Linked DNA regions of Homo sapiens. The protein of the gene in region 1 purifies or fractionates together with the protein of each later gene. This does not show direct contact. Each region holds a gene or a part of one and is shown on either strand. Other genes may lie near its edges.

Evidence for each region. The genes of interacting proteins can lie anywhere in the genome.
Region 2: the proteins of SCN2B (region 1) and EXOC7 purify together in Homo sapiens (affinity purification with mass spectrometry; 4 studies listed by BioGRID and IntAct, with this or other methods). This does not show direct contact.

What each region holds. Positions count from the first base shown.
Region 1 is NC_000011.10:118,166,640-118,170,139, forward strand, and holds part of SCN2B (sodium channel regulatory subunit beta-2 precursor), read right to left. Parts: intron 2,113-3,500; coding exon 1,946-2,112; intron 1,657-1,945; coding exon 1,446-1,656; intron 448-1,445; coding exon 248-447; 3' UTR 1-247. UniProt on the Homo sapiens protein: Regulatory subunit of multiple voltage-gated sodium (Nav) channels directly mediating the depolarization of excitable membranes.
Region 2 is NC_000017.11:76,083,652-76,086,787, reverse strand, and holds part of EXOC7 (exocyst complex component 7), read left to right. Parts: intron 1-642; coding exon 643-708; intron 709-990; coding exon 991-1,111; intron 1,112-1,378; coding exon 1,379-1,474; intron 1,475-2,207; coding exon 2,208-2,271; intron 2,272-2,498; coding exon 2,499-2,540; intron 2,541-2,648; coding exon 2,649-2,782; intron 2,783-3,037; coding exon 3,038-3,136. UniProt on the Homo sapiens protein: Component of the exocyst complex involved in the docking of exocytic vesicles with fusion sites on the plasma membrane.

The sequences.
Region 1 (3,500 bases):
GTGGGAGCCCTTTCTCTCCTCTCCCCAGGGCCCACACGTCCCAGAGCATGGCAGGTTTCTCGGATGGAAGAGAGTGGGTCACTCTTGGTGCAGGGTGGGAGATACGAAGTCGGGGGTTCAGGAGGCCCCAGGTGGGCCCTGGGGTCCTAGGTCACGGGAAGCACACCAAGAGCGAGCAGGCAGGGTCACTGTACAGGGCGGAGAGGGGAGGAGACGGGACACGGGAGGCTGCAGGGCCGGCCACCCACTACTTGGCGCCATCATCCGGGTTGCCTTCACCGTCCGTCTTGCCCTCCTCCTCGGTCTTCAGGTCATCTGTGCTCAGCTTCTGCTCTTTTTTTCTCCTCACACACTTGACCACCATCAGCACCAAGATGACCACAGCCAGGAAGCCCCCGACGGAGGCACCCACAATCACGGCCACCGTGGAGTCCCGCTCAGGGGGCTCTGGAAAGGAAGCAGAGCCACTGAGCACCAGGGCTGGGAAAGGGGCCTCCCCCATCACCCCACTACCCGTGGCATGCGTGGAACCATCCTGACTTTACTCTCCTCCACAGACAGGACTTTAGCAAAGCCGAAAAGCAATCCAGTGACTGACCCTGAAGCGCCGCCACCTCCAAATCCCAGGACACCCAAAGCCCCCAGAGGAGCTAGTGTGATGAAGTATTTAAGAGCATGAACTTTAAGATCAAACAGACCCAAATTTGAGTCCTAATTGTACAACTTACGAATTGCGTGACCTTAAGTAACTTATCCTCTCTAACCTCAGTTTTCTAACATGTAAAATGGGCTTAATAATAGTACCTCCCTCAAAGGTTTTCATGAGGATGAGATAATGCATAAACAGAGCTTAGCCCTATGACTGAGACATAGAGGTGCCCAATAAATGAAAGCTGCCATCATCACCATCATTATTATTGCTGTTGTTGTCATTTGAAACAGGGTCTTGCTCTGTTGCCCAAGCTGGAGTGCAGTGGCACAATCATGATTCACTGCAGCCTCTACCTGCTGGGCTCAGATGATCCTCTCACCTCAGCCTCCCAAGTAGCTGGGAGTATAGGTGCAAGCCACCATGCCCAGCTAATTTTTGCATTTTCTGTAGAGATGGAGTTTTGCCATGTTGCCCAGGCTGGTCTCGAGCTCCTGAGCTCAAGCTATCTGCCTGCCTCAGCCTCCCAAAGCGCTGTGATTACAGGTGTGAGCCATCACACCAAGCCCCATTATTAAGACTGGGATTATATTCTGTATCATTACCAGGACTCTCTGGGACATGTTCCCAGGTTCTTGAGGACTAGAGGGAAGAAAATGGATTCCTTCTATGCAGCACAAATGGTTGCTCCCATCCTCAGGAGGGCCTGGCCTCCCCAAAGTGCCCTGAGCAAATGCCGCAGAGAGTAGGTGGGTGGGAAAGGTCAGGGCCCCGCAGCTGGCACCCCAGCCTTCACCTTCCATGAGGACCTGCAGATGGATCTTGCCATGGCCACGGTGGCGGTCAGGGGGGTTCATGATGTAGCAGTTGTAAATCCCCTCATCCTCCGGCTGCACGTTTCTCAGCATCACCGACACATCGTACTTGCTGGGGTTCCCTGAGAACTCCACGCGGTCTTGAAACCGCTCCAGCTTCAGGTTAATGATCTTCATGCGGAACTGGAGGAACTGGGGTTGGAGCAAGGGACAGGATGGGTGGCTGGATGAGCAAGGAACTACAAGGACAGTGAGGATGCCCCCTCTTCCCATCCACCCTTTTCCTGGGGAAGAGAGGCAGTTACCTCTGTGAGGCACCTGGATGCGCAGCACACCTTGTTTCAAGAGCCTCCAGAGCACGCAGCCCACCCAGGGTCCTCTGGGGCCCTAGCGCAGTGCCGGGGCCGGTGGTGGGACCAGGGGCTTCATGCCATGGGGCTCCTACCTCCTCCCCTGCCCCTGCCTTCAGCCCAGGACTCACCATCTCCTCAGAGCAGTTGTTGCACTCCTGGTAAGTCCAGTTCAGGGAGAACTGTTTGTGGTTCACTGTGTAGCAGGAGTTGAAGGTGCAGGGCAGGCGGGCGTCAGAGCCATTGAGGACGTTGAGGGTGGCAGGTACTGTGACCTCCATGCTCCGTCCTGGTGGCACTGCAGATGAAGCCACAAGCTGGTGAGGAGTCTGGCTGAAAGGGCTGGGGAGGGGCAAGCCCTCTGTGCCTGGGAGTGTTGGGGGATGAGGCAGAGCAGAGCCACAGGGAGGGGACTGGGTCCCTGACAGCTCCAGTTAATCAGGAGGTGGGAGTTACTGTTATTTGCAACAGGGTCTCTGTTGCCCAAGCTGGAGTGCAGTGGCGCAATCATGACTCACTGCAGCCTAGACCTGCTGGGCTCAGGTGATCCTCTCACCTCAGCCTCCCAAGTAGCTGGGAGTACAGGTGCAAGCCGCATGGAATTGGACTTCGTTCTTCCTGGCAGGGGCCCACTCAGCCTCCCCAGTCCATACTCCTGGAGTGGGCAGGCACATATGGGGCACCAGATGTGGTCTTTGGGGCAAAGCGGGGCCACAGAGCAGGTAGGGGAGGAGAGAAACCAAATCGTCACATCATCTATATCTGTCAAGCCAGGGGCAGCCAAACGGCCTCAAGCCTTTTCTAGAACCACTGTTAGGCACCCCTGCCCCCACCACACTTGCCCCAGTTCTGTCACATGCCAGCAGAAGACCACAGACAAGGGGCTTCACTATGCTTGCCTCAGTTTCCCCCTTATTCTCACCACTTCTAACCATCTTTGCTGGGCCAAAACCCTTCCAGCTGAAACTGCAGGGCTCCCCTGCCGTTCTGTTCTCAGGACAGCAGACTGAGAACAGCTGGAGATTTGGAAGGCCTCGCTCTCCATACCCCAGGGACAGAGCAAAGCTGTGTCCCAGCCCAGCCCAGCCCCCTACCTTCCTCAGGCTTGCAACAGACAAGAAAGAGGGCAGACAAGCTGTGGGAGGGAAGAGGTGCCCCAGAAGGTGAGGCACCATTCCAAGGACCAGCTGATGGGTCTGCAGGGACAGGAGTCCCTCTTGAAGATGTCAACCTGGAGACACCACAGCAAGGAGCTGCTACAGGCAGGCAGGGTGGGAGCTGCTGGTTCTGCAGAGTCCTATTAGGAACACCAGACTGAGGCCAGGAGACTTTGGTGCTGGGGCTGAGAAAGGCCTGTCCCACTCCGACATTCTAAGCAGGACAGAGCCTACAGGGAGGCGAGCGAGGGGCCTGGGGCAAGACACTTAAGGGGCATCCACTGCCTGGTCATGGAAATACCTCCTTAAATGTCACGCCCTAGGCACCTCACTGGACTCACCTGAGCCCTGGCCTTCATTCCAAGATGCTCTGCCCGTATCCTCAAGAACCTTATCTCAGAAGATTCCTTTTCTTTATGGAGGATAAACAGCAGTGTTCAGCATCATTCATTCACTCATTTACCAAATATTTATAAATCACCTACTGTGTGCCAGGCACTTAGTCTAGGCCCTGGGGGTTACTGCTGTG
Region 2 (3,136 bases), on another chromosome or scaffold:
ACTGACTCTCAGTACCTACTGGGGAGCCTGAGTCAGAGGGGACATGAGTTTTCTCGGGGTGCTCTCAACTCTCTCTGCTCCCTTCAAGGCCACTCTGTCTCTGAGCTTATCCGCAGCACCTGCCCAGGCTAGAGCCCTGGATACACCCCCTAGGCTCGCCCGGCCTCCCTGCCTTGCTGTCCCCACTCGGCCTTCCCCACTGTGCAGGCCGCAGCTTCGTCTGTTCAGTAGGGTCTGGTAGAGGGGATGTTCGAATGTAGGGGAGAAGGTGGAGAGGCTGTGGGGAGCCCATTCTAAGACTCTGCTGTTGACAAAAGGAAAAAGGGGGCCTTGTAGAAACCACCCAGGGTGGGTGGGGGCAGGAGGGGACAGGGCGCTGGCATCTCACTCTTTTCCTGCCAGCTTTTCTGCTGACATGGGCCAGCTCCATCCCATCATAGAGGGCAGCTCTGGGTTCCAAAAACTCCAGGGCTGGTGCTTCCTGCGGCAGGGGCCACCCTGTGGCTTAGCAGGCAGCCAGCTCTGCCCAAGGAAGCCCAGGGCCTGTCTCAGTGTCCCCTCAGACTGCTGCATGGCCTGGGGGAAGGGCCGTTGAGGGTCTTGGCTGCTGCCACTGCAATAACAGGACTTCTCCTCTCACAGAGACCAGCTCTTCGGCCACCAGCTACAGCTCTGAGTTCAGCAAGCGGCTGCTAAGCACCTATATCTGTGAGTGTTCTCCCGGGCAGACCAGCAGCCCTGCTGCCTGCATGCCCTGCCTTTCCCTTCCTTCTGTCTGTGCTCTCTGGCTATTCCCAGGGCCCTCTCCTAAGTGCCATCTGATCTTTGGAACCACAACCTGACCTCTAGTTCAGAGGCTGAGGGGAGTTGGGCTAAGGCCTCCTGAGGCAGGACGAGGAGCGATGGATAGGAGCGCGTTCGCGGGTCCTGGGGTGGGGTCGTTTGGGTCAGACTGCCATGGTGGGTGTGGCCCCATTTTTCCCTGTGCAGGTAAAGTGCTGGGCAACCTGCAGTTGAACTTGCTGAGCAAGTCCAAGGTGTACGAGGACCCAGCTCTGAGCGCCATCTTCCTGCACAACAACTACAATTACATCCTCAAGTCCCTGGAGAAGTAAGTGGCCTGCGGGAGTGAGTCTGCGGCTCTCACCTTCCCCTCGGCTGTGCAGCTGTGCCAGCCCCTGCCCCCCTGGGCTCCTTCTCTTGTGGACGAGAGGGGAGGGGGTGCTTCAGTCTCCTCCACCCCAGGACCCGGAAGGTGGGATGCCATAGAGCTTGTGGAGTTTGGGGTGCAATGGGAGGCCCTCCCGGCATTGCCGCAGCCTTTGGGCCTGAGGAGCCAATCCTGTCCTCCTCTCCTCTGTCCCCTACCCCGACCCAGGTCTGAACTGATCCAGCTGGTGGCAGTGACACAGAAGACTGCTGAGCGCTCCTACCGGGAGCACATTGAGCAGCAGATCCAGACCTACCAGCGCAGGTGAGAGGCTGGGCCCGCCCTGCTCCTGCATGGGCCCCTGTGCCACCACGCACTCTTCCTTCTCAGCACCTCAGGACACAGAGTCGGTCACGGGGAACTCCTGTCCTCTGGACCCTAATCCTCCACTTGGTTTCTAATCAAACTCACGGGGTGGAGAGAGAAGCCCCCTCCTCTACCACTACCTGCTCCTAGGGGCCCACTATGGCCACTTTAGAGGGGAGTCTGCCAAGTGTCAAGGCTAAGAATGATTGAAGAGCTGGCTCTCAGAGACGTGGGTAATGTTTACCTAGGAGAAGAGCAAGGTCGCGAGAGCACTTGAACGTGGCTGAGCCTTGCTCTGTGAGGATCCCGCTGCTTCTCTGGTCCTCTTTCTTCCTGGCTTTGTTTCTTCCCTTTGAATGTGTCTACCTCTTCCTTCTCATTTATCTGCCCTCCACTCCTTTCTTTCTCATCTGTTTCTCCATCTTAGTTTGCCACGATATTGATGTGAAGTATAGTTGACAGTATTTGTCCAATTTATTGAACACTCAAGTGTTTCCTAATGTTATCTCAAAAAGTGACCAGTTTAAAGATTTTCTCTTCCCAGGAAGAAAACCTGTTGTTTGCTTAGTTGTGACCCACATCCCTTCCTACCACCACCCACCAAGTAGATCCAGAGATTTAGCAAACGAAACAAGCCAGGCCACTGAGGCAGGCCACCCTCTGCCCTCATGCTTCTCTTTCTGTCTGGCAGCTGGTTAAAGGTGACTGATTACATCGCAGAGAAGAATCTACCTGTGTTCCAGCCGGGAGTCAAGGTGGGCTCAAGACCTGGGCTGGGAAGGGGTGTCTGGCAGACGGGATACTTTTTGTCGTGTCTCTGGGAAAAAGTGGACAAGCATCCCTCTGGGATCAGAGAGCAAAGGATGCATGTGGCCATCAGGACACAGGAGACAGGCCCAGACCAAGGGTGTTTGGGGAAGAGTGGGGGAAGGCTGCTCTGCTCTGAAGTGAGCTTTCTCTGCTATCTCTCCTGGCTTCCCAGCTCCGGGACAAGGAGCGGCAGATTATCAAGGAGCGTTTTAAGGTGAGTCGGGGTCCTCTCCCCTCCACTGCTTGCTGCTGCTGTTGAGGCAACACAGACCCAAAATGTTTGTCTCTGGGTGCCTTCCTTTTTCACCTTTTTGGTGGCCAGGGCTTCAATGATGGCCTCGAAGAACTGTGCAAAATCCAGAAGGCCTGGGCTATTCCAGACACAGAGCAGAGGGACAGGATTCGCCAGGCCCAGAAGACCATTGTCAAGGAGACCTACGGGGCCTTTCTACAGAAGTGAGGCCTCCATTCCCCTCCCAGCCTGTGCTGCCCACAGCCCCAGTGGGCCTCTTCAAGCTCCTCTTCCTCAAGGGAAAAAGGAGAAGGGTGGTGGATTTAGGCAGCAGATCCAGCGACCTGGGCTTTGGGGCGGGGCCAGACAGGGAATCGCTCAGGGCCACCCCTTCCAAGACTATCAGGAGTGCCTTAGGCTGAGGGTGGAGCTGGGGAGGGGTCGGCCCTCCCTGTCCCCTGACCACAGTGCCTCCTCAGGTTTGGCAGCGTGCCCTTCACCAAGAACCCGGAGAAGTACATCAAGTACGGGGTGGAGCAGGTGGGCGACATGATCGATCGCCTTTTCGACACCTCTGC